Linked DNA regions of Homo sapiens: all the other regions are linked to region 1. The links come from fine-mapping of genetic effects on gene expression. A gene starts in region 1. Each other region holds a variant in brackets. All regions are shown on one strand. Distances are from middle to middle.

Region 1 (7,762 bases):
GTCACAGTTCTTTGGGGATACAGGTTTTGGGGGAGCTCCAAACCTATTCTGCCCCCTCTGGTAGCTGCTAGCCTGCTTATTTCCACAGTTCCCATGGTGGTGAAGTTGCTGGTTTTCAAGGCTATCACAGAGGTGGGGAGAGAAGAATGGAAATAGGGCAAGTAAAAATTTCATGAAGCTCATTATTCTTATGAGATTTGGCCATTTTCCTTTTCTTTATTTTAAGAGACAGGGTTTCACTATGTAGCACAGGCTGGAGTGCAGTGGTGGAATCACAGTTCACTGCAGCCTCAAATTTCTGGGCTGAAGCAATCCTCCCATCTCAGCCTGCCAAAGTGCTGGGACTACAGGCATGTGCCACTGTGCCTGGCTAATTATTTATTTTTAGTAGAGATTGGGGTCTCACTATGTTACCCAGGCTGCTCTCAAACTCCCAGGCTCAGGTGATCCTCCTACCTCAGCCTCCCAAAGTGTTCGTATTACGGGCGTGAGCCACCACACCTGGCCTCAGCCATTTTTCTTTAACAAATTGACTCATGATATTGCAAACCTCTGGCAAATTCCTAGAGTTCTGAAGAAGTTTATGTGGACAATTTTGCTAGTGCTCTTCTTGCCTTCCATTCTTCAAGTATCAGTCCATTCTTGCATTGCTATAAGGAATACCTAAGATTGGGTAATGTATAAAGAAAAGAGGTTTAATTGGCATATGGTTCTGCAAGTTGTACAGGAAGCATGATGCTAGAATCTGCTTGGCTTCTGAAAGGCTTCAGAAAACTTACTATGATGGCAGTACGCAAAGGAGGAGCGAGGCATCTCACACGGTGGGAACAGTAGAGAGAGAGAGGGAGGAGGTGCTACACACTTTTTAAACAACTAGATCTCGTCAAAGATCACTCGCCATCACAAGAACAGCACCAAGAGGATGGCGCTGAACCATTCATGAGAACCCTCTCCCATGATCCGATCACCTCCTACCAGGCCCCACCTCCAAAACTGTGGATTACATCTCCACACATGAGACCGGGTGGGAACACAAGCCCAAATCGTATCCAAATGCTTCCCTCATGACCTTTGTTTTTAAAATAATTTGTTTAATTATACATTTATATAATTTATTTATTTATTTTTGAGATGGAGTCTCACTCTGTTGCCCAGGCTGGAGTGCAATGGCATAATCTCAGCTCACTGCAACCTCTGCCTCCTGGGTTCAAGTGATTCTCCTGCCTCTGCCTCATGAGAAGCCGGGATAACAGGTGCCAGCCACCATGCCCAGGCCATCTTGGCCTGGCTGGCCTTGAACTCCTGACCTCAAGTGATCCACCTGTCTAGGCCTTCCAAAGTGCTGGGATTACAGGCGTGAGCCACTGCCTATAACTTAAATTTTAACAATGGCTGTGTTGAACAACCAATGCGCATAATTCCTGAACATGTTAACAATTGGCTTTCATGAGTTGGCACCAGCAGCTCCAGGACCCCACCAACAGGCCTCCTGGGTGCCCCATTTGATCCAGCTGAGCTCTGTGAACCTTTAGAGTATCTGCTAGGTGCCAGAGCTCCAGAAGTGCTCATCCAATACTAAGCTGACTCCACATCCTTCAGCATCCAGGCCTCAGCCAGAGCTTGCTGGCAGGACAGACACTGGCAGGAGGGTCTTCCAAGCGATAGCTTGGCATGAAGGAAAACTTGAAAGAGGCTTGGCATGAAGGAAAACTTGCAAGAATGGCTGTAAAGGGCTGGGCGTGGTGGCTCATGCCTATAATCCCAACACTTTGAGAGGCCGAAGTGGGCAGATCACTTGAGGTCAGAAGTTCAAGACCAACCTGGCCAACATGGTGAAACCCTGTCTCTCCTAAAAATACAAAAATTAGCCAGGTGTGGTGGCGGGCGCCTGTAACCCCAGCTACTCAGGAGGCAGAGGCAGGAGAATCACTTGAGCATGGGAGGCAGAAGTTGCAGTGAGCCAAGATCACACCACTGTACTCCAGCCTGGGTGACAGAGCGAGACCCTGTTTCAAAAAAGAAAAAAAAAAAAGAATGGCTGTAAAACACTGAAAGATATTGCTTCTAATCTTAGGTATTGATTTCCAAATTGTGCTAAAGGCTGTTTTCTGACTTCTGGGTGAAACTAAACAAAGCCAACAGGTTTTTGTTTGTTTAATAACATCTCTAACTGGAAGTCTTCAAGTATTGAGTAAAGGCATACACGGTGAGGTGGGTGGTGGGGCAAAGGCTGCCTTTAGACATCATCTGGGGGATGTGCACTGTAACCCCTGTTCTGTGAAAGAGGAAAAGAAGTTTGTTTATTTGTTTGTTTGTTTTAACTTTTGGGCTTGCTCAAATAATAGCAAAATCTACTTTGGGATTGTGGTCCAACGTGCTGTTGGAGTGCACTTTAGTTGTAAATAACCACTACCAGGATTATCAGGTAAGGCCTTCCTTAGGCCAGCACTACAGCAGGCAGTCACGAGCCTCCTTGCAGTACACAGTGTGGGTGTCCCTGGCTTCTCTGAACTCAAAGTGAGAAGCTTCCTGATAGAAGTAGAAGTATAGGCTAGGCGCGGTGGCTCATGCCTGTAACCCCAGCACTTTGGGAGGCCGGAGTGGGCAGATCACGAGGTCAAGAGATCGAGACCATCCTGGCCAACATGGTGAAATCCTGTCTCTACTGAAAATACAAAAATTAGCCAGGTGTGGTGGCGGGCACCTGTAGTCCCAGCTACTCAGGAGGCTGAGGCAGGAGAATCGCTTGAACCCAGGAGGCAGAGGTTGCAGTGAGCTGAGATCGCACCACTGCATTCTAGCCTGGTGACAGAGACAGACTCTGTCTCAAAGAAAAAAAAAAAAGAAGTAGAAGTACAACAGGGTGATTGTGTCTCTTTCCTAGACCTTTGCCTTCCTTACCAATTCTGCATATAATCAGCAGAAAGCCGTGAACTTTTTTTTTTTTAAGACAGAGTCTCGCTGTGTCGCCCAGGCTGGAGTGCAGCGGTGTGATCTCAGCTCACCGCAACCTCCGCCTCCTGGGTTCGAGCAATTTTCCTGCCTCAGCCTCCCAAGCAGCTGGGATTACAGGCATGCGTCACCGTGTCTGGCTAATACTTTTTGTATTTTTAGTAGAGATGGGGTATGACCATGTTGGCCAGGCTGGTCTTGAACTCCTGGTCTGAAGTGATTCACCCACCTTGGCCTCCCAAAGTGCTGAGATTACAGGTGTGAGCCACCGTGCCCAGCCAAGCCATGGACTTTTAAATTCAATGTTTCTCGTTCCAGGTATTTGTCTCCTTAGATATTTATTGGCTTGCCTCAATCATCCAACAAATATTCCCTGGGCATCATCTGTGTGTCCAGTGCTGTGTTAACATCATCGACAGCTGGCATTTAGGATGGACATTTGGGGAGTTTGGAGAATTGGGGAGGTTACACTGTTGCCAGGTGGCAAAGTCTCATCTGATAAGATTGAAATCAGCTCCTCTCATGCACACACTGAACCATAGCGCCTCTCCAGAAAAGCTTAGCATTTTCCCAACCCCCATGCCTCTGACCACTATATTACTTGTGTCTGGAGAGTGCTTTCTCTATCCTCTCTGCAGGACTGTGTTCTCACCTCACCTCTTGGTGGGGAGAAGGCCACCCCTGGGAGCTGCTCTGCCCTGGTACCTGGGACCAGGGCCATGCACCATTGCTTTAGAGAACACCTGCTCCGACCCAGGTCCTGCACCAGGGATTTCCCACCAGCTGAATCAGACACAGTTGCTGTCCTCAGGGAGCTTACAGTCACGGGTCAATAGGATACTGCAGCTAGGATAGCAGTCCACACAGGGCCAGGGCGGGGCACTAAGGAGATGACAGTCATTTCTCCTAGAGAGTCATAGATGAAGTCATATGTCAGGTGAGTCTCGACAGATGAAAGGAAGAGTGTCTGCCAGGTGGACAAGAGGCAACAGCTTGAGCTCAGGAGGTGAGTCAGTGGGTGATGCCGAGAGAGGCATTCTCTTGATCAATTCAAGTGAAAAGCCCAAAGCTGTTTGATGGCTGAGAGGATGTGTAGGTCAACTTAAGGAGAAGAGCCTAAAACAGCTCTGACAAGTAAAAAAAAAAAAAAGGCAGAAGACAAGACAGGCCTATTTTTGCATGTTATAAAACACCGAGAAAAAAATATCAGGATGATTGTCATGGTCTTCTTTACATTTTCCTGTATTTTTCAATTTAAAATAATTGTTGGTGTTACCTGCTGCCCACGCACTCCTCCGTCTGCAGGGGGCGCACCGGCCGCCACCGCTCACTCCTTCAGGATGATGGGCGGGGCCTCCTGGGCCGGTGTGGACTGACGAGTGGCTGGCCGCCCTGTCCATCACGACATCCCGCCCCCGCGCTACGTCACATGACGCAGCCCATCATGGCGGCGGGAGCGCGGCTTCCCAGGCCCGCCGCTCCGCAGGGCTGCTGGCGTTGCTGCTGTTGAGAGGCGGCGGCGGCGGCGCAGGCGGGCGGGAAGGATGGTGTTTCTGCGACTGGAGCGGCAGGTGCGGACCGGGAGCCGGACCGAGGTTTGGCAGAAGCAACGTGTGCTCGGGAGCAACCGGCGCGGGTGCCACTGAGGCAGCGGAGGGAGGCAGGATCGACTGACGGGCGAACGGACGGACGGACGGAAGGCGACTCGAGGGCCGGCCCCGGAGCCGCGCCGTGGGCGAGATGCCGGGGCCGCCGGCGTTGCGGCGGAGGCTGCTGCTGCTGCTGCTGGTCCTCCTGATCGCCGGCAGTGCTGGGGCCGCGCCACTTCCGCAAACAGGTGCAGGTGAGCGGGCCCGCGGCGGGGACGGGGCTGCGGGGTCTTCGGCGTGGAGGGGAGGGGGCGGCAGGGCCGGGCCGGCCTCGGCGCCGAGGAATCGGAGGGCCTGCCGGGGGCGGGAAGCCCAGGGAGGCGAGTGATTAGGGAGATTTCTGCCGCAGGGGCGTGGGATTTGGGGGGGCGGGAGCGAGGCGACGTCGTTGGGGCTGGGGAGGGCGGCGGGCGAGGTAGCAGCCACCGACCCCTCCCGGGATAGGCTGCGGTGCCGGCCCTGGACCTGTTGCCTTAAGATCCTCAGCTTATATCGCTTCCTGGCAGTTCAGCTTCCCTTTCCAGATGTCACCTGCCTCTTGTGCTTTTTTTTCGCATCTCATAAGAACCGTTTCTTAGCCCTAATCATACTTAAATGCAAATGACTTGGCGAGCTGTGCGGAGTTTGTTTTCGCTCCTTGCAACTTATTCTGAAGTTGTAAATTGATTTTAGACGCTGTGCTTTTTATTCGGAATGTATCTCCGGGGATGAGAAGGAAACAACTATAAATATTTCTATTTTAGGAAGCCAGTGATTAGAGTAGCAGGCGTTGAATAACTATTGACAAACTGGCTTAAGGGTGATGGAAGTTTCTATTTTAGCTAACGTCAGTGTATGATTTTCTTTTCTCCCCCCCCGCCCATTTTCTCAACATCGTTTTTATTTGGGGTTTATTTTCCTAAATAAAACTTCAACCCAAGAAAACATCCCAAGTTGGGTCATTTTTCTAAAAAGGAAAAAAAAATCTAGGCTAACTTGGCGTTATTGACTGCCGCCATTACCTTTGAAATGGGGAAAGATTGAAATTTCATACATTCATAGAATGTTAGAGTTAGAAGAGACCTTAAAGAAAATTTAGACCAATTTCTTCTTTACGTAGTAGGAGATACTGGGCATGTTGGGTCAAATGACCTACCCAGGGTGACACAGCTTCGTTGTAGGCAGAGCCCCAAAGCCAGGTCTTAGATACCCCTAGTTGTATGATTTTTTTTAAGTCTTGTAACTGTTTTGGAATACTCTCGAGGTCAAGAGTTATTTTGGAATAATGTTAATTGGGTACAGAATGTGGATGTACTGTCTCCAGTAAAGACATATTTTTCAAACAAATCTACGATGAAAGCTACATGTAATTGCTTCCAGAGCTACATCAGGGTTTGTCATTGAGTGCCCTTTAGTTGAACGTTAAATGTCCTCATTGTACCGTATAATGTAGCACTAAATTTCTGTTACTGCCTTAGATCAAATACTTGTGAGGTGAATTCTGTTTTCTGATCCGATAGATAAGAAGAGTAAATGTTATCAGATGTGTATAGGCAACCCCGGAAAGAGTCACAGGAAATGCCTGGGAAATAATGAAAGATTATGTGGAAGGATGGTGATGTTGATATTTAAAGATATTGATATTGAAAGTTAGCACTAGTATAGTGTAGTAGGTAAAGAGTATTTATATGATGGGGATTCAAGAAATTTCCAGATGACTTTACACTTAATTGGATTTTTATATATTTTGAAGTATCGATTCTTTATAGGAACCTATGTCTGCCTGCACACTTTTTTTTTTTTTTTTTTTTTGAGACGGAGTCTTGCTCTGTCACCCAGGCTGGAGTGCATCATCGGTGCGATATCAGCTGACTGCAACCCCCCCCTTCCGAGTTCAAGCAGTTCTCTGCCTCAGCCTCCTGTGTAGCTGGGACTACAGGCCCCTGCCACCATGTCCGGCTAATTTTTGTATTTTTAGTAGAGACGGGTTTCATCATCTTGGCCAGGCCGGTCTTGAACTCCTGACCTCGTGATTCACCCGCCTCAGCCTCCCAAAGTGCTGGGATTACAGGCGTGAGCCACCGCGCCTGGCCACCTGTACACTTCTTACACGGTTTTTATTCCATTCTTTTACAATTTTATGGTGTCATGAATTATAAAATGAATTTTGTTGGGGTGTTGTAGAACAAAGCAATCAGAAAAGTTAATCTGTAAATAGAGATATCAAATCTTGACATACATATAGCATAAGGAAATATTTGGTAATTTGTAGCAACTTTTGCTACAAATTTTCCTTTCATATTCTGATCTTTGTAGGATAGGTGTATATGTTTTGACGTGTTGCATATGAATAATGGGTACCTAGGGTTAAAGTCTGTGGAAAAGACGCACAGTCAGGCCGGGAGCAGTGGATCACACCTGTAATCCCAGCACTTTGGGAGGCCCAGGTGGGTGGATTGCTTGAGGTCAGGAGTTCGAGACCAGCCTGACCAACATGGTGAAATTCCCTCTCTACTAAATATACAAAAATTAGCCGTGCGTGGTGGTGGGAGCCTGTAATCCCAACTATTTGGGAGGCTGAGGCAGGAAAATTGCTTGCACCCAGGGAGCGGAGCTTACAGTGAGCCGAGATTGTGCCACTGCATCATAGCCTGGGCAACAGAGTGAGACTCCGTCTCAAAAAAAAAAAAAAAAAAAAGAAAGGAAGATGCACAATCAGACATAGATATTCAGGGGCTTGTCTCTCCATCCAAAAGAGTTTATTGATCCTCGTTAGCTGAGGTGGGTTCTTGACCAAGATATATTAGACCAAGTTTAAAAAAAAACCTTTAAGCTAATCCTGACTAGTGAGCTCGCTGGTTAAAAAAGAGGAATCCCGCTTGACCATGTATGGTAGATAAAAGAGCAGTTACACGCCAAAAACCTAACTAAAGCTTCTGGTAATCTAGGAGCCTGCACTCCTTGTGAAGATAGAGCTAGACACTTTCAAATAAGGATAGACCCATTTCATAGGGTCTTTCGCCTCCTTGTTCTTCTTTCTGCTTGAAGCCTGATCAGTCTATCCAGTTTAATGGTGCCTTAGAGAAAGCATGCAGTTAACTGAAATTCAGCTTTTAAACTGAAGATCATTTATCTATGGTGTCTTCATCATCTAGATTCATTGCTAGACTCAGAAGCTGAAA
Region 2 (7,762 bases), 21 kb before region 1:
GATTCTCTGCTATTTATGCCTCTCTGAAATGTACATTTTACGTTAAATATATATGAATATATATATAAATATATATATGAATATATATAAATATATATATAAATATATATATGAATATATATATTCATATATATATAAATATATATATGAATATATATTTTGAAACAGAGTCTCTCTCCGTCACCCAGGCTGGGGTGTTTTGGCACAATCTCAGCTCACTGCAACCTCTGCCTCCTGGGTTCAAGTGATTCTCCTGCCTCAGCCTCCAGAGTAGCTGGGATTACAGGCACGCGCCACCATGCCTGGCTAATTTTTGTATTTTTAGCAGAGATGGGGTTTCACTAAGTTGGCCAGGCTGGTCTCAAACCCCTGACCTCAAGTGATCTGCACATGTCGGCCTCCCAAAGTGTTAGGATTATAGGCGTGAGCTACCACGCCCAGCTCATTTCACATGGTCTTGACCTCATGGCTGCATTGGAGTTTCTTTTTTTTTTTTTTTTCGAGACAGAGTCTCACTGTGTCACCCAGGCTGGAGTGCAGTGGCACGGTCTTGGCTCACTGCAACCTCCGCCTCCCGGGTTCACGCCATTCTCCTGCCTCAGCCTCCCGAATAGCTGGGACTACAGGCGCCCGCCACCACGCCCGGCTAATTTTTTGTATTTTTAGTAGAGATGGGGTTTCACCGTGTTAGCCAGGATGGTCTCGATCTCCTGACCCCGTGATCCGCCCACCTCAGCCTCCCAAAGTGCTGGGATTACAGGCGTGGGCCACCATGCCCGGCCTGCATTGGAGTTTCTGTGCTCAGGGCCTGTACTGCACAATCAGGCCTTTCTGGGGACATAGCAGCTGACACTGCCGGACCCCAGCTCTCTGGCCAGGTCTCTGGCTCCCATGGACAGCCTCTCCAGAGAGTCACCATTCACTACCCGTTCTCCCACCAGACAGAGATCAAATGTACACCATAAGAACTGTAGTTCACAATATCATATTGTATTTGGGATTTTTGCTAAAAGAATAGATTTTAGGTTGCTCTTGCCAAACACACAAATGGGTAACTATGTAAAATGATGAATACGTTCATTTACTTGGATATAGTAACCATTTGACTGATTATATGTATATCAAAACGTCATGTTGTACACCTTAAATATGTATAATAAAAAATAATAAAATAGCAAACAAAAAAAAAAAGCCTGAGGCCTCCCCCCTTTTTTCTTTTTATTTTCTTTTCTCTTTTTTTTTTTTTTTTTTTTTTTTGAGACAGTCTCACTCTGTCACCCAGGCTGGAGTGCGGTGGTATGATCAGGGTTCACTGCAGCCTCAACCTCCTGGGCTCAAGCAATCCTCCCATCTCAGCCTCCCGAGTAGCTGGGACTACAGGTGCACACCACCATGACTGGTTAATTTTTAAATTTTTTGTAGAGATAGGTCTTTCTATATTGTCCAGGTCAGTCTCAAACTTCTGGGCTCAAGTGATCCTCCTACCTCAGCCTCCCAAAGTGCTGGGATTATGGATGTGAGCCTCCACACCTGGTCCCATTCTTTTCTTTGAAATCCCCCCCACTTTTTTTTTTTTTTTTTGTAGCGTGAAAGAGTTTGCAATCATTTTTCTCTGTGAGAATTATTAGCTCACAAATTTTCCATTTCTTAGCCACCTCGGTAAGAAGAAAAATCACAAATGGTTGTTCTCCAAGGAATCGGGGGGTCGTCAAGCAAGACCCACATAAATGCCACCAGCAGAGGAGAACAGAGGCTGTTTCCAGGGCTGCCCAGAGATGTCCCACATATTTTTTGTCACCTGATACCTCCTAGGGGCAAAGAAGTCCCCATTTTCCAGCTAAGAGATAGCTGAGTTGTTTTATCTTCTGGTATTGGCCTCTGTGCCGAAGCCCCCTCTGATCTGTCCTTTCCCTGGGTCTCCATCCATCTGCCTGAGCTGGACGGAGCCTCAGCCCTTCCAGAAGAGAGGTTGTAACCGAATCACAGGTTCAGTCACTCGCCACTTGCAAAATTCCATTAACAAGCGCGAGGTCTGGTGGCTTTTTATTTTAAAGCTAGTTTGTGGGAAGAAGTGCAGGCTTCCTGGCTTAAGGGTACCACTTCGCTTTTGGAGCAGAAAGTGTGCACTTTTAAAGCGGGGGTCTGGCATGAATGGCATGCAGGGGAGAAAGTGAGCAGGTGGGGGTCTGCCCAAATTTGTTTGGTGCCTTATTTACTGGGCAGTCAAGCTAGCACCTTCATGAGCAGAACTAGGTTGTAAACTCTCCAGGTGGGAGAGAGTTTCAGTCTTCAGAGTGGCTGAAACTATCCAGTGGGGAGAGAGTTTCATAGTGGGCATACTTTGGGTTGTAAATAGACCGTTGTCTCTCAAGGCAATCTAATGGGAGTGAGTTCCACGCTGGAGTTTCTAAGCACATAGTTAGATAAGCTTGCCCTGCAGGGAGTGTCTGGTGAAGGGGAGGTAAAAGGTTATCATGTCATTCCTTTTTGTGTGTGGCAGGGGAGGGATAAGGTCTTGCTCTGTCTCCTAGGCTGGAGTGCAGTGGTGCGATCTTGGCTCACTGCAACCTTTGCCTCCTGGGTTCAAGCCATTCTGGTGCTTCAGCCTCCCCAGTAGCTGGGATTACAGGCATGTGCCACCACGCCTGGCTAACTTTTGTATTTTTAGTAGAGATGGGGTCTTGCCATGTTGGCAAGGCTGGCCTCAAACTCCTGGCCTCAAGTGATCCACCTGTCTCGGCCTCCCAAAGTGCTGAGATTACAGGTGTGAGCCATCGTGCCCGGTCAAGGTATGATTGCATTTCTAAAGGGCTAAGTAGGAAATGAGGAACAGGGGAAACAGAAAAGAGGAAAAAATAATAAATAATTACTCATTCTCTTTTTCTTAGAAAAATAGGGGTACTTGGTTACTAGGTGAGCAGATGGGGTTGGTCAATTTCCCCCAAGAGGAAATAGATGCAGAGAGAGAAACTAATAACCTCAAGGCCCAAATGAAGTCAGTAGCAGAAGGCTGGCTTCCTCAAAAGCCCATCCTTCCTGCTGATGATCAAATACTGCCCTAGTCTTCTTGGCATCACCCACAGGAAAACAGAGGCACTCTGATTCCTGCATGGGTAAAATGGGCACAGCTCCACCCTCAGAGGACTTATTCAGGGGAGCGATGTCATACCTCACAGGAGATGCCTGCGAGCCACCTGGGACACACAGCTGTCCAGGCATCCTGAACCAAGTCTGCAATTGTTTATGGCTTATTCATGGGGAATCAGAGAAGGGCAAACACGCTTGCCCTCTTAGCAGATGAGTTGTGGGTTGTGATTACAACCTGGGTGTACAAGGGGCAGTGAAAAGCCCAATTTCTTT[C/CT]TTTTTTTTTTTTTTTTGAGAAGGAGTCTCATTCTGTCACCCAGGCTGGAGTGCAGTGGCGCGATCTCAGCTCACTGCAACCTCCACCTCTCGGGTTCAAGTGATTCTCCTGCCTCAGCCTCCCAAGTAGCTAGGATTACAGATGCCCGCCACCACAGCCGGCTAATTTTTGTATTTTTGGTAGAGACAAGGTTTCACCATGTTGGACAGGCTGGTCTTGAACTCCTGACCTCGGGTGATCCACCTGCCTTGGCCTCCCAAAGTGCTGGGATTACAGGCATGAGCCACCGCACCCAGCGAAAAGCCCCATTTCTGTTTGTTTGTTTTGTTTGTTTGTTTGTTTTTGAGACGGAGTCTCGCTCTGTTGTCCAGGCTGGAGTGCAGTGGCGCGATCTCAGCTCACTGCAAACTCCGCCTCCCGGGTTGAAGCGATTCTCCTGCCTCAGCCTCCCGAGTAGCTGGGATTACAGGCATGTACCACCATGCCCAGCTAATTGTTTGTATTTTTAGTAGAGGCAATGTTTCACTGTGTTAGCCAGGATGGTCTTGATCCCCTGACCTCGTGATCTGCCCACCTTGGCCTCCCAAAGTGCTGGGATTACAGGCGTGAGCCACCATGCCCAGCGAAAAGCCCCATTTCTAACAAAGTTTGGCAATTAAATAAGTAGCCACAACTCCTTCTGCTATTAAATAATAAAGCCATTGAGTGTTACACAGAAAGAACCACAAATTCCGGCCAAGCCTGTTGGTGGCTGTTGGAACCGCCCTAATAAACAATTTCAGGTACAAGCAGGTGTGGCAGAGGGAGGTGCAGGAAGTTCCCTGGGGCCTCCCAGCCTAGGCCCCCCAGCAGTGGGAGTGGGGGCCTGCTGGTGAGGCCTGGCTTCCTGCTGGGCTCTGAACCCAAAAAGAAGCCAAAGGCAGACCCAGAGAGCAACTGCAAACAGTGATGAGATGGTTGATTTGGGTGACCTTGGACCCGGGATTCTGGACTGCTGGGTTACAGGGGAGTCACTTCCTCACTTCTCACCTTATAGGGTCACATGGAGCGTTTGCTCCCCAGCGATTTGGGGAAGGTAGAAGCGACTCCTTAGAGTATCTTGAAGTAGGGGCTTACAATCAGACAGACAGAGAAAAAGCTCCCCCTATTCCTCTTTCCCGCTGCCCCTCACTGAGATACGTGGATGAGACAGGGTGGCATTGCATGGGGTGGTGGAGAGTCCCAGGCGGGTCTTGCTGGAGGAGCTCCCCAAGGACTCCCTTTGCTGGAAGGCTCCAGTCCCCGTTCTGGTCCAATGCCAAGGAAGGGACAGAGGATGACGCTGCATGAGCTGATTAATCCCTGGGAAGACAACGGGCCCTGCCCTACCTGCCCATGTGCCAGTCTGGCACCAACTCGCCCAGCCTGTTCCAGCTGGCCTGGTAGAAACTGACGCAGCAGGTGACTCCCTCGGTTTTATGGGCTTGGGGCAAAAGTCGTGTGGCCAGCAGAGTGGCTGAGGCAGGTAGAGTTTTCCACAGCGGCCTGGGCTCTCCTTGTCCTAGAAGTCTAACAAGTCATCTTCTTGTTTACCCTGGTGCCTCCCTGGAACATAACCTGACACATCACGGGCACTTCCTGTGTGTGTTGAAATAATTGTCAAAGAATTGGTAAGGAGCAGATGTGAGCAGAACATGTGCCCTGCGCAAGAGAAGCCCGTGGTCCCCAGAAACTTACAATTCTTTTCTTTTTTAAATTTTTTCTTTTTGTTTTTAAGATAGGGTCTTGCTGTGTCACCCAGGCTGGAGTGCAGTGGTGTGATCGTGGCTCACTGCAGCCTCTACCACTGGGGCTCAAGGGATCCTCCCACCTCAGCCTCCTGAGTAGCTGGGACCACAGGCATGTGCCACCATGCCCAGCTAATTTTTAATATTACTGTTTTAAAATACATGTAATTGTATTGAGTCTATCTTCTCTAAGGACAAAGGTTTACTCAGCAACTATTAACTTCAGGGTAGAGCTTGTTCTCCACCTCTGCTCTTCACCCTACTCCCCAGCCCCGATCTCACCAGAAAGCAAACCTTAACAGGGTCTCTCACCTGAGGGGTATCCAGGAGCAATTTGGTCCACACCTCATCTTCGCAAAAAGCTTTTAACGTATACTTTGTTGTTGTTGAGACAGGATCTTGCTCTGTTGCCTAGGCTGGAGTGCAGTGGTTCAATCATGGCTCACTACAGCCTTGATCTCTTAGGCTCAAGTGATCACAATCCTCCTGCCTCAGCCTCCTGAGTAGCTGGGACTACAGGTGTGCGCAGCCATGCCGGCTAATTTTTTTTTTTTTTTTTTTTTTCTGTAGAGATGGGGCCTTGCTATGTTGCCCAGGGCAGTCTTGAACTCTTGGTCTCAAGTGATCTTCCCACCTCAGCCTCCCAAAGTGCTGGGATTACAGGCATGAGGCACCGAGGCATGAGACGGGCCTCAATGTACACTTTTGACGTTATTCGGTTTTGACTCTGATACTTAGCAAGGATGCCGGAGCCAGGCTACCTGAGTGTGAACCCTGCTTCTGTCACTTACTAGCTATGTGACCTTGGCCAAGGTCCTTATCTTCTCTGTTTCTGTCTCCTCATCCACAAAATGGGAATAAGGATAGATTAAGCCAATCACCAAAAGCAACCTATTGTATGATTTCATTTATATAAAATGTCAAGAATCAGCTGAATGCAGTGGCTCCTGCCTGTAATCCCAGCATTGTGGGAGACCAAGGAGGGAGGATCACTTGAGGCCAGGAGTTCAAGACCAGCCTGGGCAACATAGCACGACCCTGTCTCTACCAAAAATAAAAACAAAAAAGCCCAGAACAGGCAAATCCATAGAAGCAGGAAGTAGATTAGTGGTTACCAGGGGGAATGGATGGGGAATGACAACTAACGGGTAGAGTTTCTTTTGTGGGTGATAAAAATATTCTAAAATTAGATAAAGCTTAAAGAGTTATTACTTATAAAGTGCTTACAGCAGTGTCTGACACATCAAAAGTGATCTGCAAGTCATTGTCGAATAAAACTTACCTCGAAAGGAAGGCATGAATACTAATGAGCTTGGAAAAAAAATGTTCATAATACAATTTTAAAATGGTATTTCATTCCCGAATCTCACTATCTGCTGTGTACTTTTTATCAATCCTGCTGTAATTATTTTGTGCATAGCATCATTATATAGCTGTATAAATTATGTACATTAAAAGTGTTAATTTGTTAGACTTAAATGTGTTAGCACGTTTTTACCATATTGGGTGGTTTCCGCACCCCCTCCAAAAATGGGTGGTGGCTCAAGGCTCTGTTGGCAGCTGGTGAGCTGTCCCTGAGTTACACAGGTTTAGAGGCAACAACAGGTAAGGACTTTGCACAAAGGCATTTGGAAAGACAGCCAATTGTCCATCATGATATCTCATCATTGCCCAGTTTGGTAATTGATGTATCATTTGCATTAATGATATACCACACATCATTATGCAGATAAAGTCGGCTATCATCCAGAATGAGGCACACAGCCTTTGATTGGCAGAGAACTAGGGAGAGTCAAATGACTTTTAACCTACTTGGTCTCCTTATTTGCCTAATGCTGAATTAAAGTCACGCAACCATGACAGGGATTCAAGTCAAGCAAAGGTGATCGTAAAGACCCGCAGGAGGGTGTCCTATGGCGAGGCCACTGATGTGCCGGCTAGGGGTTAACAAGTGGCTCTTGGCTGGGTGCGGTGGCTCATTCCTGTAATCCCAGCACTTTGGGAGGCTGAGGTGGGAGGATCACTTGAGCCCAGGAGTTGGAGACCAGCCTGGGCAACACAGCAAAAACCCATCTCTACAAAAAAATGTAAAAAAAACTCAGCCAGACGTGGTGGTGCATGGCTGTAATACCAGCTACCTGGGAGGCTGAGGTGGAAGGATTACTTGAGCCTGGGGAGGTCGAGGCTGCAGTGAGCTATGGTCATGCCATTGCGTACTCCAAGCTAGGCGACAGAGCAAGACCCTGTCTCAAAAAAAATAAATAAATAGGCGGGGTGCTGTGGCTTATGCCTGTAATCCCAGCACTTTGGGAGGCTGAAGCGGGAGGATCATGAGGTCAGGAGATCGAGACCATTCTGGCTAACAGTGAAACCTCGTCTCTACTAAAAATACAAAAAATTAGCCAGGTGTGGTGGCAGGCACCTGTAGTCCCAGCTACTCGGGAGGCTGAGGCAGGAGAATGGCGTGAACCCGGGAGGCGGAGCTTGCAGTGAGTCGAGATTGTGCCACTGCACTTCAGCCTGGGTGACAGAGGGAGATTCCATCTCAAAAATAAATAAATTAATTAATTAAATAAAATAAATAAATAAATAATAGAAAAAAGAAGACAGGAAAAGACACCAGGTATGCATGTGG
Region 3 (7,762 bases), 34 kb after region 1:
AATATCCGTGAGTCCATAAGTATATACATGACTGAATAAAATAAATAAGGGGAGGAGAGGGGACCAATCTTCCTTACAGAATTCCAAATAACAAATGTAGAAGAAATGAGGGAAATAGAAAATCACCTTCCAAACATCACAGTAGTAATTGCTGTAGGCAAGATGCCCTGACAGATGCAGAAAACTGGTGTGCAAGACCTGAAGGAGAAACAGGCAGTTGCATAGCCTCAAAGTTTCTTCCCCTGATATTACTAATTACTGGAGGGTTTTTAACCTGTGTCTACAGACTCTACTACTCCTCCCTCCAGGAAGTACAGCTTACGTCCGTTCCCTGTGGGCCAGCATTGCTTTCGAGGAATAGAGTATGAGAAGGGAAAGGTAGGCCTGCAGTGGGTTGGTGACGCCTGGTGGGAGCCACCTGGCCCATGGGATCAAAGTCACCTCACCAGGCATAGGTCATGCGCCCTGCTGTGCAAGCAGGACAGTTCACCCCACTGGAATTCTCTAACTCCTTCCCAGGTAGCCACAACCTTGGTCTAATCCTGAGAAGACATTGGGTGGCCCAGATTGAGAGACATTCCACAAAATAACTGACCAGCACTCTTCAAAAGTGTCAAGAGTTATGAAATGCGAGGAAAGACGAGAAGCTGTCAGAGACTGGAGGAGCTGAGGGGCATGTGGTGATTAAATGCAACGTTGGTAGTTTGGATTGAGTCTGAAAAGAAAAAAGGACTAAAGTGGAGAAAACAGTAAAATCCGAATAAAGCCTGAAGTTCACTTCATAGCCTTGTTACCAGTGTTACTGTCCTAGTTTTGATCAGCATACTGTGGTAATGTACGATGTTAGCATTAGTGGAAGCTGGGTGAAGGCTGTATATGAACTCTCTGTATTGTCTCTGTAACTCCTCTGTAAATCTAAATTATTTCAAAGAAACAGCAGCTTCTTATCCTGGATGGATCATCAGCTTTTTCTCGAGCATTATTTTATTAACCCTTACACCCATTTGTATGTAGAGGAAAATATATTGATTCACTAATTAAAGTTGATTTTGGAATGTACATGTTTTTAATATTATTTATCTCTCTTTCCAGGGGAGGCGCCACCTGCTGCAGAAGTTTCCTCATCTTTTGTGATCCTGTGTGTGTGCAGTTTAATAATATTAATAGTGTTAATTGCAAACTGTGTATCCTGCTGTAAGGACCCAGAAATAGACTTTAAGGTGAGCACAGAGGGTAGGAACATTTAAAATGGTCTTCCAATATGTTTTTCAATAGAATAACTGGATAGCACAGTCCTTTGGGAACAGGATCAGCAGATTTTTTTTCTTCCCCTAATGGCCAAATAGTAAATATTTTCTACCTTAGTGAATAGTAAATATTGTGGGCCATACAGTCTCTAAAACAGCAGCTCAACTCTGCCAGGATAGACACTGTTACCAAATGGTCATGGCTTTGTGCCAATAAAACTTTATTTACACAAATAGGAGGTTTGGATTTGGTGCATCAGCTGTAGTTTGCTCCGCCTCTGTCATTGACAATAACCACTTGCCTGTGGTGAGTTGAGGTTCTTGCTGAGTGAGGAGTGAAGCGTGGTGATTGAATTCACTGTTGTCCGTAAGGGCTATGAGGAAGAGCAAGATGATTGTTCCCCTCCACCCCGAAACTTCTGTAGACTGGTGAATTTGTGGTCACTGAGATTACTGAGGCAGAGGGATCCCCCAGTGTGTTTTGTGAAAGAGGAAGATCATTGAAACCTCAAGTTCCCTAACAGGGAGGAGGAGGCTGCAGATTGTAAAGTCCTGGCCAGGGAGGGTAATAGAGAAGATCTGGTTATAGCAGCAGACGGTGGAATGGACCAGTGAACCAGCCAGGAAGGCCTCTAGAACTTACTGCATGCCTGCTGGAGTGCATTCGGCCTATGTAAATACTTGTTATAAAGGAATACATGGGGGGGAGAAGGAAGGAATGTGGCGTGCAGAGAAAATGGTCCTTAATGTCACTCCCTGTTGACCGCGCAGGGCTGGCCCAGGAGCCTGGAGGTCCAGTGGTTCAAATTGAGGGAAAAAAAAGGTCGTCTTCTGGCTAAAGCCTTGTTTTCCCTGGACATGGGGCCCTGGTCTTTAGAACCTCATGGCTGTTTTTGTGTGCTGTCTTTACCCCAAGCCTTCTAGTAGCGCTGAGGAGACACACAGATGTGCTGTTTTCTTGGGTCAGCACTGGCCGTATACACACAGAGGGCTGAGAACACAGGAGGGTGGTTGGAAAACACTAATGGAGATCAGTTCCTTTAGAATATTTTGCCCCAGACCTGTAGGGTTTTACTCACAACATCAGTCCCTAGGCCTTAGAACCCCTACACACACTGCTATGGCGCCTGCTGACGGCACTAGTAGTAGGGGCACAGTTGTCGGTGGACAGTTTGTGTCCCTTGCTTGTTAGTCTTGCTGTGGGACTTTACACAGAAACCTGGCCATTTCAGGACAAAGATAAAGCCTGATCAGTGTTGCTGATACTGAAATCCAGTCTCCATCTCACATTTCATGATGCCTCATTCTTGCCTTAGATCATGCAAAGCTTTTTGAATCTCAGGATTGAATGCGGGAGTTCATTTGAGAGCCAGGAATCTGTGTTGTTACCAAGCTTCCCCCGGAGATGCTGGCGCAGGGGCCGCAGTGTCTTAGAGGACTCTCCAGCTCTAGAGTCTGTGTGACTGTGTAAAGAGTATTTCCATCTGTGATTTATTGGCTTTCTCTAGATTTAAAGCTGTGCAGTTTTAGAGCTGATGGTCCGTGGAAGTCATTTTACAGACCAGGAAGCTACAGTCTGGTAACACAGGTGACTTGCCGACATTCATCCAGATAGCCAGCAGCAAAACTTTAAAAGTGACCCAGGCTTATCTAATTTTTCTTCTTTTCTTTTTTCAGACAGGGTCTCTCTCTGTCACCCAGGCTGGATCACACTTCACTACAGCCTCAACCTCCCAGGCTCAAGCAATCCTCCCACCTTAGCCTCCCGAGTAGCTAAGGTTACTGCAGGCACACGCCATCATTCCCTGCTAAGTTTTGTATTTTTTGTAGAGACAGGGTTTCACCATGTTGCCCAGGCTGATCTTGAACTACTGGGCTCAAGTGATCCTCCCGCCTCTGCCTCCCAAAGTACTAGGATTACAGGCGTGAGCCACCGGGCCTGGCCATTTTTCTTATTTTTATACTACATTACCTGGTCTGAATCTTTAGAATCATCTGTTGGTATATCTAGTGGTACATCATGCTGCTGCCAAATTTTGAATGGCATTATTTTAAGGTAGGAGTGATGGACAAAATCATTTTACAGAGAGAGCCCTATTTAGGAATGTCCAAAAGAAAATTGAAGGATTTCCTCTGTTCAAAAATCCCCTCCCAGATTGAAGTTACGGTACCTCATTTTTCTTGCTCCCAACTCCATCAATACAAATAGCAATAATGTCCTTTAATGCACTGGAGAACATACATGAGAATAATGTCTTCTCACACGCATATGGAAACACAAGTGTTAGAGAAATCTACCATTGTAACTTTTAGTTTCTTTCTTGTATTGGATGGGGGCTAGGAGAGGTGGTAGAGAAAATGAAAATAAAAGTTCATAGACTGTTCAGTGGAGAACAGTCTTGTTCACTGATCTGTTCCCAGCTTCTGTTATGGTGCCTGGAGGGCTAATACATGTTAATTATCTGAACAAATGATTTGATGAATGACTTGATAATTGGCCGTGTCTATGGTAAATTAACATGGATATCAAGGTATACCAGTTCACCAGAATGGTGACGGAAGAATTGCGATAGCTTCCCACCGAACGTCACGTAAAAGGTTTCCACAACTTTCTTTCTTTCTTTCTTTCTTTCTTTCTTTCTTTCTTTCTTTCTTTCTTTCTTTCTTTCTTTCTTTTCTTTTCTTTTCTTTTCTTTTCTTTTCTTTCTTTTCTTTCTTCTTTCTGTCTTTGAGATGGTCTCGCTCTATCACCCAGCCTTGACCTCCCAGGCTCAAGCAGTCCTCCCTCAGCCTCCTGAGTAGCCAGGACTACTCCAGTAGTCCTGCGCCACCATGCCTGACTAATTTTTTTAAATCATTATTTGTAGAAACAGGGTCTTGCCATGTTGCCCAGGCTGGCCTAGAGCTCTCGGGCTCAAGTGATCCACCTGCCTCAGCTTCCCAAAGTGCTGGGATTACAGGCATGAGCCACTTTGCCTGCCTGCATCCTCAGTTGTAAAGTTGTCATCTTTAGAAAGCCAGACGTGCTTATATGTTAATTACACTTATGCGTCACATGGTTTTTTTAGTGACCTTTGTGGTTCAGATCCTGGTGATTTTTTTTAGCTAATTTAGTAATGTTTCCATTGTTACTCTTTTCAGAGAAATAGAACTCACTTAAAAATATCTTTT[C/G]TGAGTCTTTCAACATTTATTTTGATAGAAATCACATTTCAATTAGAAATGCATATACAACTTTAAAATAAAATGATTTATTTTGATTCAGTATGCAAAGAATCATGTCACAAAAGTAATAATATTAAAAGAATTGCTTGGCCAGGCGCTGTGGCTAACATCTGTAATCCTAACACTTTTGGAGCCTAAGACAGGAGGATTGCTTGAGATCAGCCTGGGCAACATAGGGAGACTCTGCCTCTACAAAAAAAAAAAAAATTCAAAAAATTACCTGGGCGTGGTGATGCGTGCCTGTGGTCCCAGCTACTCGGGAGGCTGAGGTAGGCGGCTCACTTGGTTCCTGGAGGTCCAGGCTGCAGTGAGCCATGATCATGCCACTGTGCTCCAGTCACTGTGCTCCAGCCAGGCAACAGAGCAAAACCTTGTCTCAAAAAAAAAAAAAAAAAGAATTGCTTAAACTGTAGTCATTTGAGAGTAAATTTTTAAGCCTAGAAAACTATTTTTGTGTAAATTCCATTGCATTTAACTTCAAACTAACAGTTTAAAAACTTACATGAAATATGTATAATTTATTTTCCTGTCTTATGTATTCTGCTGTTTGGAGTCAGAGAACAAAATTACATATGCTTTTTACTTAACATTAAGTACAAACTGGAAAAAAATAATTGTGGCAGCAAGTTCCAAATCATTGTGCAAATATGTTCCTATTTTAAATGTTAGCCAATGGTTTTTAATGCTTGCTCTCTTTCATTTTAGGAATTTGAAGATAATTTTGATGATGAGATAGATTTCACACCACCAGCAGAAGACACTCCCTCTGTTCAGTCCCCAGCAGAGGTCTTCACACTTTCAGTACCAAATATTTCACTCCCAGCTCCCTCGCAATTCCAGCCTTCTGTAGGTAAGACCATACAGCCTAATGCCACGTTTTCATGAATTGTTTCTGAGATCTGAGAATGGGAGCCTAGCCATCATAAATATTGGACTGCCCATCTCCTCTTTGGTTTATTTCTCTTCCTTCTGCTCCCAGTGAAGCTGAATTCTAGTGGTCAGGCCCATTGTATTCCTGCAATAGCTTTGTCTTCTGCTTTCTGGACCCTGGGTCTGGTATGAGAATAAAACGAATCTCCTTGATTCATTGACATTGAACACCTGGCCAGAACTCCCAGGCTCTGTTCTGGAGGTGGTTTCTCTGCTAGTTCTGGCCACGGCTGACCTTGCTGAGTAGGACTCTGCTGGCTTCCACTGGGATGCCCTGCATTTGGGTAGGAGAGGAAAGTTTGGATATGTTAATCAGATTGACTTTTCTAAGCTTCTTCAGACAGAGGTTTGGTTCTGTGTTAGTTGATGTCTTGTGAAAAAATAGAATGTGACTAGAAAAATAGAATGTGACTATAGTTTTTTTTTTTAGAGTTTGAAATTTAAGCCCTTTTTAGAGTTAGAACTTTTTGTGGTCTTAAGAAATTCTTATTCTGTGATTAAAATAATACCTTTTAAAAAATATTTTAAGCTTTTGCTTTGACCAAAGAAGTAGGTTCAAGAAGTAGGGTTTTCTGAGATTGCCGCAAGAAGGCTGTGTAAGTCTGTAGATGCTAGGACTACCTTTTCTGGTGTGACACACGCTGTGGGCTCTGCCTAGGGCAGAATAAACCCCCGAACTGATGCCACTGCAGGCAGGCATGACTATAAGAAAAAGCCAGATGGAACGTGACATAGTTGGTGCATTTCATTTAAATATTTGTAAAGTAAGAATATATTTAAATTTATAGATTTTGCAGCATTAAAAAAAACAACCTGGAGTGTTTAATTGCTGTAAATAACAATACCCCTACTCCAACCAAAATAATGAAGTTTAAAAGGAGGTCTAATATATTCTTGGGATAACTTAAGTATACTTACTCTAAATGGAAATATTTTATTGTTGCTTGTTTGATAATTTGCTTTCCTTTATACTTAAGAAAAACCTGGAGAGACTTCTCAGAGCTTTTACAGGCCCATAGTCGATCCCCGGTGGATTCATTTCAAGTAGCTGAATTCCAAATTAGATCAGCCTAAGTGGAAACGAGAATTTTCTGACACATGGACCCAGACCGTAGGAAGAACAGGGGTTCAGCTGACCTTGGAGACAGCTAGAACCAGGGCCTGGAACATCATCAGCATTTTAATTCATTTCTGATTTTCTCTTCTCTTTGCATATCTGCTGAATCTCTTAGGCAGCTTCTCTGCTCAGTAGGGAGGTTGGCTGCCAGCAGCTCCACACCCATTCCCTTGTAGTTTTATAACCATAGAGGAAAGGAGCTTCTTTCTCTCTCTCCTTGGACCAGAAAGAAAACCCTTTGGAGGGACATTCTGGTTGTCTTCACCTAAGTCACAGGATGCAGAGCCATCACTGGTCAGGAAGGTGGGGACAGACAGACAGCTTCTCTTCAGGATCTACTGGGGATGGATGGGAGCACAGTCAGATGCAGGCAGAAGAGAAATTATGGTGACCTGGGCAGCCATTGTAATTTTGTTTATATACACACCCCTTTCTGTTTTACTGAAGCCCTGTACCCTAATATCCCTCTCCGTAGGAAGAAATTATTTTAAATTTCTCTGAGTAGAATACCCTCAGAATATTTTTATCATCTTGGGATACGAGAGGCCTTTCCAAGCATGCACCAAATCCAGAATCCATAAAGGAACATACTGCCAAATCTGATTTACAAAAATGAAATATTCTGTATAGAAAAAGACACCACACACAAATTGACAGAGTCGCAAAAAATATTTGTGAACTACAAACAGTATTAAAAACGGTTACATATCAAGAGTACAAACAAATGCAGGATAAAAAGTAACACGCTACTAGAATAAATAAGCTGAGGACATGAAAGGAGAATCTCAAATGGCCAATAAACATAGTAACCTCGTTATTAATTAAAGAAATGCTGACTTAAGCTGAGAGCAGATAGGTAAAGATGAAAAGAAATGACACCAGGTAGTGATTGGCGAGCATGTGGAGAGCAGCAGGCAGTCTCATCCACTAGGATTAGTGCAGCTATAAATTGCTGAAGATGTTCTTTCTGGAGGGGTAGTCGGGCAACATGTATCAAAATATGAGACATGTTGACTCTTGATCGAGCAGTTCCACTTTTAGTAATTTATCTTTAGGAACTAATTGGGCAAGTGTGCAAATATGCATGTACAAAGGAATTTATTGCAGCGTTGTTTGGCAGGGTAAGATGGAAACAGATTAAATGTCTGTCAATATGCAATTTGCTAAATTATAGTCAATCAATACAGTGGCGATTTATGTGTTCCTATAAAAGGATCAAGGTGAACTGTATTTGACTACGAAAGAT
Region 4 (7,762 bases), 42 kb before region 1:
ATTTGTTATTACTTATTTTTTAACTGACAGCTAAACTTGTATATGTTTATTGTTTACAACATGATGTTCTGAAACACATATTCATTGCAGAATGGCCAAACCAAGCCAACCAACAGGCATACGCATCACCTCACATTTGTAATTTTTGCAGTGGAAACACTTAAAATCTACTGTTTTAGCATTTTTCAAGAAAACAACATATTGTTATTTTATTTTTATTTTTTGAGGCAGGGTATCTCTCTCTCACCCAGGCTGGAGTGCAATGGCACAATCACAGCTCACTTCAGCCTCAGACTCCTGGGCTCAAGTGGTCCTCTCTCCTCAGCCTCCCGAGTAGCTGAGACTACAGGTGCGCACCACCACGCCTGGCTGATTTTTAAACTTTTTGTAGAGATGGGGTCTCGTTATTTTGCCCTGGCTGGTCTTGAACTCCCGGGCTCAAGCAATCCTCTGGCCTCAGCCTCTCACAGCACTGGGATTACAGGCATGAGCTACCTTGCCCAGCCAATATATTGGTCACCATGTTGTACAACCAATCTCTTGAGCTTATTTCTCTTATCTAACTGAAATTTTGTAAACTTTGACCAACATCTCCCAAACTTCCTCCCCTATCACTACCCCAAGCCCCCTGGTAACCTGGGCTCTGCCATATCACAGAGCAGACGATGGAATAACAGGCCATTCTACTCTGTACTTCTCTGAAATGGACTTTTTCAGATGCCCCATGTAAGTGAGATCACACAGTATTTGTCTTTCTGTGCCTGGCTTATTTCAGTTAACATAATTTCCTCCAGGTTCACCCATGTTGTTGCAAATGATAGGATTTCCTCCTTTTGTGGCTGAATAGTATTCCACGTTTCCTTTATCCATTCATCCAGTGATGGACACTTAGGTTGATTTCACATCTTGGCGATTGTGAATAATGCTGTCAATCAGGAGTGCAAAAGACTTAAAAAAGGAAAAATTTGGCCTGGCGTGGTGGCTCATGCCTGTAATCCCAGCACTTTGGGAGGCCGAGGCGGGCGGATCATGACGTCAGGAGATCGAGACCATCCTGGCTAACATGGTGAAACCCCCTCTCTACTAAAAATACAAAAAATTAGCCAGGCATGGTGGCGGGCGCCTGTAGTCCCAGCTACTCGAGAGGCTGAGGCAGGAGAATTGCTTGAACCCGGGAGGCAGAGGTTGCAGTGAGCTGAGATTGCGCCACTGAACTCCAGCCTGTGTGACAGAGCGAGTCTCCGTCTCAAAAAAAAAAAAAGGAAAAAAAAATTTAAAAGATAATGACGTCATTAACATGAGTGTGCAGATATCTCTTTGATGTACTGATTCTACTTTTTTTTTTTTTGAGACAGAGTCTCACTCTGTCATCCAGGCTACAGTGCAGTGGCACGATCTCAGCTCACCACAACTTCTGTCTCCTGGGTTCAAGCAGTTCTCCTGCCTCAGCCTCCTGCGTAGCTGGGATTACAGGCACGTGCCACCACACCTGGCTAACTTTTATATTTTTAGTAGAGACAGCGTTTGACCATGTTGGCCAGGCTGGTCTTGAACTGCTGACCTCAGGTCTCCCAAAGTGCTAGGATTACAGGCGTGAGCCACCACGCCCCAGCCTGATTCTACTTCTTTTGGCTATATGCCCAGTAGTGGAATTGCTAGATCATATGCTAGGTCATATGCTAAATTTTTAAATTTTTTGAGGAATCTCCATACTGTTTTCCACAGTGGTTCCCATGATGGCTGTACTGATTTACATTCCCACCAACAGTGTGCGAATGTCCCTTTTCTCCACATCCTCACCAACACTTAATCTTTCATCTTTTTTCAAATAGCCATTCGGACAGGTATGAAGTGATATCTCATTGTCAATTTTTTTGAGACAGGGTCTCGCTCTGGAGTGCAGTGGCTCAATCATAGCTCGTTGCAGCCTTGGCCTTCTGAGCTCAAGCAATCCTCCTGCCTCAGCCTCCCAAGTAGCTGGAACTACAGGTGCACACCATCATGCCTGGCTATTTTTTTTTTTTAATTTTTTATGGAGACGGGGTCTCACTTTGTTGCCCAGGCTGGTCCTCCCTCCTATGCCTCCCTCCATAAGGCTTTGTAAGCACTGCCAAGCAAGCTATCTCACGGGCCTTTCTTCTTTGTGCCTGTCACAAGGGCAATTTCACATTTGTTTGTGCTGTTATTTATTTGTTATTTATTTATTTATATATTTTTTGGAGACAGAGTCTCACTCTGTCACCCAGGCTGGAGTGCAGTGGTGTGATCTCAGCTCACTACAACCTCTGCCTCCAGGGTTCAAGCGATTCTCCTTCCTCAGCCTCCTGAATAGCTGGGATTACAGGCGTCTGCCACCACCCCCGGCTAATTTTTCTGTATTTAGTAGAGACAGGGTTTCACCATGTTGGCCAAATTAGTCTTGTACTCCTCAATTCAAGTGACCTGCCTGCCTCAGCCTCCCAAAGTGCTGGGATTACAGACGTGAGCCACTAAGCCCAGCCTTGGCTTGTTATTTTATCAGCACCTGTATCAGGGATCTTTGGGTGACCGAAAGCCGAACACAAGCTGACTTAAGCAAGAAGGGCATATCTTGGGTTATTCACTGAACTCGAAGTCAGGGCAGTGATATGATGGAGCAGCTTACTGACTGTGTGCAATCTCTCCCAAGCCTGAGTTCAATCAGCCTGGTGAGAATATTTACACTATGGAAATTGGCAGATGCTATGAATCAGGGCTCTCTTACCCCTCACCCCAGAGCTGATTGTTAAACATTTACCAGCACACCACTGGATGTTTATTTCAGGTATGGCTGCATACAGAGGCCAAATGATGTCACCAACCCCTGACCTCGCTTTATCTCTCTGGCTTTCCTCTGCTGGCTACTCTCAAGCAGGCTTTCCCTTTATGATATGTGACAGTGGTGACAGTTCTAGCCTGCAAGCTTCCAGGGCAAGTGAAGGGCAAGAGAAAGGACCCCTTTCTCCCATGTCAAAGCCTCATTTTGTCTCTCTAGCTCAAAGTGGATTACATATCTGTTTCTTTTCTTTAAAAACATCGTTTTTGGGCTGGGCGCAGTGGCTCACGCCTGTAATCCCAGCACTTTGGGAGGCCGAGGGGGGTGGATCACGAGGTCAAGAGATCAAGACCATCCTAGCCAACAGGATGAAACCCCATCTCTACTAAAAATACAAATATCAGCTGGGCATGGTGGTGTGCACCTGTAGTCCCAGCTACTCAGGAGGCTGAGGCAGGAGAATCGCTTGAACCCACGAGGCAGAGGTTTTAGTGAGCCGAGATTACACCACTGCACTCCAGCCTGGGTGACAGAGCGAGATTTCATCTTAAAAACAACAACAACAACAACAACAACAACAACAAAATACATTGTTTTCGTTTTTTGTTTTGTTTTTTTTTTTAGAGATGGGTCTTGCTCTGTCACCCAGGCTGGAATGCAATGGTGCAATCATAGCTCAGTGCAGCCTCGAACTCCTAGGCTCAAGCGATCCTCCTGCCTCAGCCTCCTGAGCAGCTGGGTCTACAGGCATGCACCACCACACTCAGCTAATTTTTTAAAAAAATTTTGTTGTAGAGACAGGGTCTCACTATGTTGTCCAGGCTGGTTTCAAACTCCTGGGCTCAAGCAATCCTCCTGCCTTGGCCTCCCAAAGTCCTGAGATTACAGGCATGAGCCGTCATGACTGGTAGATTACATGTCTGTTTCTAAACCAATCACTGTAGCCATTTAAAATTGAGTTGAAAAAAATATATAGCCAGGTGTGGTGGCTCACGTCTGTTGTCCCAGCTGCTCAGGAGGCTGAGGTGGGAGGATCACTTGAGCCCAGAAGTTGGAGGCTGCAGTGAGCCATGATTGTGCCACTGCATACCAG[C/A]CTGGGCAATAGAACAAGACCCCCCATCTCAGAAAAAAGGCCAGTGGCAGTTGAAAATTATTTATTGTGTGCCTACTATGTGCCAGGCACTGTTCCAGGCTCTTGAGTTTCAAGATAATCAACATAGGAAAAATCCCCTATGCCTCCAGAACTTATGTTCTAATGAAGGGAGACAGACCAAAACCAAGAATGATCAAAGTCAGGGGTTAAGAAGTGCAACAGAGAGGCTGGGCATGGTGGCTCATCCCTGTAATCCCAGCACTTTGAGAGGCCAAGGAGGGTGGATCATTTGAGGTCAGGAGTTCGAGACCAGTCTGGCTAACATGGTGAAACCTTGTCTCTACTAAAAATACAAAAATTAGCCGGGCGTGGTGGTACATGCCTGTAATCCCAGCTACTCGGGAGGCTGAGGCAGGAGAATTGCTTGAACTTGGGAGGCGGAGGTTGCAGTGAGCCGTGATTGTGCCACTGAACTCCAGCCTGGGTGACAGAGGGAGACTGTCTCAAAAAAAAAAAAAAAAAAAAAAAAAGAAGTGCAATAAAAAATGAAATGGTGGGGAGAGGTAAATATAGAGTGTGGGAAAAAGGCTACAAGTAGAGGGTGGTCAGAGAAGGCTTCACCGAGCAGGTGACATTTGAGTAAATACCCAAATAAAATGAAGAAGCCAGGCACGCAGATGTCAGCATGCGGGGAAGGGTGTTCGGGCAGAGGCAACAGCAAATGCAAAGGCTCTGCGATGAGATGTTGGAGAAAAATCCAGCTCTTGTTTTTTGTTTTGTTTTGTTTTGAGACAGAGTCTTGCTCTGTTGCCCAGGCTGGAGGGCAATGGCGAGATCTTGGTTCACTGCAACCTCTGCCTCCCGGGTTCAAGTGATTCTCCTGCCTCAGCCTCCTGAGTAGCTGGGATTACAGGTGCCTGCTACCATGCCTGGCTAACTTTTTTGTATTTTTAGTAGAGAGGGGGTTTCATCACGTTAGCCAGGCTGGTCTCAAACTCCTGGCCTCAAGTGATCCGCCCGCCTTGGCCTCCCAAAGTGCTGGGATTACAGGCATGAGTCACCGTGCTTGGCCTCAATGAAGCATTTTTGAGTGCTATTTATAACATTTATATTTAATATCGGCATCCCTGAAATTAAAAATATTTTATTAATTTTTTTATTTTTTTAATTTTTAATTAAATTTTAATTTAATTAAATTTAAATTAAATTTTAATTTAATTAAATTTAAATTAAATTTGAATTAAATTTGAATTAAATTAAATTTGAATTAAATTTTAATTAAATTAAATTTTTTAATTTTTAGAGGTAGGGTCTCACTCTGTCACCCAGGCTGGAGTGCAGTGGTGTGGTAAGCTATGGCTCATTGCACCCCGGAACTCCTAGGCTCATGTGATCCTCCTGCCTCAGCCTCCTGAGTAGCTGGGACTACAGGTAAGCACCACCACAGCTGGCTAATTTTTAAAAATGCTTATAGAGACAGGATCTTGTTATGTTGCCCAGGCTGATCTTGAACTCCAGAGCTCAAGCAATCCTCCCACCTCAGCCTTCCAAAGCACTGGGATTACAGGCATGAGCCACCTTGCCCGGTCTAAAAACATTTTAAGAAAAGCGTGCCAGTGATGGTCCAAGTACATTTGGTAGCACATTAGAGCCTTGTTGCCCTTTGGAAGGATGTGTAACCTGGAAGATGTTGGTGTAGAGCGAGGACAGAACCAAGGGAGCCATTCTCAGCAACAGAGCATTTTTCATAATGCTTTCCGTGTGGTTCTTCTTTTTGCCTAGCCTTGTATACAATCAGTCCCCCTCCCAAAATTGAGAAAATGATGAAAAAAATTACACAAAATGTCAACTGAAGAATTATGAGGTTCACAAATTTGGAAAGGAGAGCTTTATTTCTTACAAAGGGTTGCAGCCTACAGGATGCCATCCCACAGGCTGGGAAGCGTAGCCTCAGGGAGAAGCCAGAAGCAGGTACGTGGAGGGAGGAAAGAAGGAGACAGGAATTTATACGGAACTATAAATATTCAACTATACATATTCAACAGGTGACTATACATATTGAACAGGTTATGGGAGGAGCTATGAATATTCATGAAGAGAGAACATACATATGCCTCATCAGCAAACAGCATGTTATATGCATCCTGTGTTCACTTTGGGCAGAGACTTAACATTTAAATGTGTCACAATGAAGCCCTACACATCAAAAGGTGAAGCAGAGGACACGAAGGCGCTCAGTGTACAGCATCTGTAGACTGGTCAGAACCACTCCATGATCTGTGGTCTCTTCTTTTGTTTTGTTTTGAGATGGAGTCCCAATCTGTCGCCTAGGCTGGAGTGCAGTGGGTGCAATCTCGGCTCACTGCAAGCTCCGCCTCCCAGGTTCATGCCATTCTCCTGCCTCAGCCTCCCGAGTAGCTGGGACTACAGGCGCCCACCACCACGCCCGGCTAATTTTTGGTATTTTTAGTAGAGATGGGGTTTCACCGTGTTAGCCAGGATGGTCTCGATCTCCTGACCTTGTGATCTGCCTGCCTCAGCCTCCCAAAGTGCTGTGATTACAGGCATGAGCCACCATGCCTGGCCTCTCTTTCTTTTTTGTTTTTTTTTTTTTTTTTTGGAGACGGGGGGTCTCACTCTGTTGCCCAGGTTGGAGTACAGTGGCCCAATCACGGCTCACAGCAGCCTCAACTCCTAGGCTCAAGTGATCCTCCCACCTCAGCTTCCCAAGTAGCTGAGACCACAGGTGTGCACTACCACACCTGGTGAATATTTTGGATTTTTTGTAGAGATGGGGTCTTGCTATGTTGCCCAGGCTGCTCTCGAACTCCTGGGCTCAAGTGATCCTCTTGTCTCAGCTTCCCAACATGCTGGGATTTACAGGCAGGAGGCACCACACGGGACCTCAGCGATCTCTTATCAGGGAAGAATGCTGGGCAGTTGCTGTGTTGAAACTGCAGACGGGGAGGGGAGTCTGGCAAGTCTTTCAAAAGCGCTGGTTTCTGTTTAACCCTTAGGAAAGAAAGTCTAATTGCAGTTAGCAAGGGAGAGGACATGGGGAGCTTGTCTAACCCCCCCGTTTCATCATGGCTGGGAACTCCATGTGTAAACTCTCTCTGAGGTCTCCCTCGCCAAGGGGGGCTTGTTCAGTTGGTTCAGGAACTTAGGATTTTATTTTTGTTTTTCAAAATGAAGCAAGGAGAGTGAGAAAAGTGATGGCAATGGAAAAGAAAGTATTGAATACAGCCAGGCACAGTGGCTCACGCCTGTAATCCCAGCACTTTGGGGGGCCAAGGCGGGCGGATCACCTGAGGTTGGGAGTTCAAGACCAGCCTGACCAACATAGAGAAACCCTGTCTCCACTAAAACTACAAAAAATTAGCTGGATGTGGTGGCGCATGCCTGTAATCCCAGCTACTTGGGAGGCTGAGGCAGGAGAATCGCTTGAACCCAGGAGGCAGAGGTTGCAGTGAGCCAAGATCGCGCCATTGCACTCCAGCCTGGGCAACAAGAGCAAAACTCTGTCTCAAAAAAAAAAAAGGTATAAGTATTGAATACAAAGCAACTGTACGTTAACAACCATCTTGTTTTATGATGCAAACCCCATGCTTTAAGCATTTTACTTAAGCATTTATGAACATGGTTTGTTGTTACATACAGGAGATTTACATATGATAAAACTGACTATTTTCACTTCTCCATTTCCAGCCTTTAACCTCCTAGCCTAGGAATCTGCAAACATTCGCTTTTTAAAAATTTTTTGAAATTTTTGTTTTGGGACAGGGTCTCGCCCTGTCACCCAGGCTGGAATGTAGTGGTGTGATCACCAGCTCACTGCAGCCTCAACCTCCCAGGCTCAAGTCATCCTCCCACCT

Alleles and levels. Positions count from the first base shown, and alleles are read on the strand shown. Sizes are in standard deviations (SD) of each study's normalised expression. Not every link is listed here.
With allele A in place of C in region 4, the expression in fibroblasts of the gene that starts at base 4,377 in region 1 is lower (small effect, 0.38 SD a copy in GTEx).

Evidence for each region. PIP is the estimated chance that this variant, and not a neighbour inherited with it, causes the effect. A credible set is the group of variants that fine-mapping cannot tell apart.
Region 2: its variant is the best candidate, but not a certain one, in a credible set for the expression of LMTK2 in whole blood (INTERVAL, PIP 0.78).
Region 3: its variant is the best candidate, but not a certain one, in a credible set for the expression of LMTK2 in whole blood (INTERVAL, PIP 0.54).
Region 4: its variant is the best candidate, but not a certain one, in a credible set for the expression of LMTK2 in fibroblasts (GTEx, PIP 0.51).

The regions. Positions count from the first base shown.
Region 1 is chr7:98,102,486-98,110,247 of GRCh38, forward strand. LMTK2 (lemur tyrosine kinase 2) reads left to right here and starts at 4,377. Exons shown (of 14, transcript NM_014916.4): 1 at 4,377-4,795. The coding sequence starts at 4,693.
Region 2 is chr7:98,081,654-98,089,415 of GRCh38, forward strand. No RefSeq gene overlaps it. Among named protein-coding and RNA genes, the nearest start is that of LMTK2, 21 kb to the right of the region's middle. The variant C/CT (reference allele first, on the strand shown) is at 3,361.
Region 3 is chr7:98,136,223-98,143,984 of GRCh38, forward strand. It overlaps LMTK2 (lemur tyrosine kinase 2), which reads left to right. Exons shown (of 14, transcript NM_014916.4): 2 at 1,093-1,220; 3 at 5,175-5,319. Among named protein-coding and RNA genes, the nearest start is that of LMTK2, 33 kb to the left of the region's middle. The variant C/G (reference allele first, on the strand shown) is at 4,419.
Region 4 is chr7:98,060,463-98,068,224 of GRCh38, forward strand. No RefSeq gene overlaps it. Among named protein-coding and RNA genes, the nearest start is that of LMTK2, 43 kb to the right of the region's middle. The variant C/A (reference allele first, on the strand shown) is at 3,888.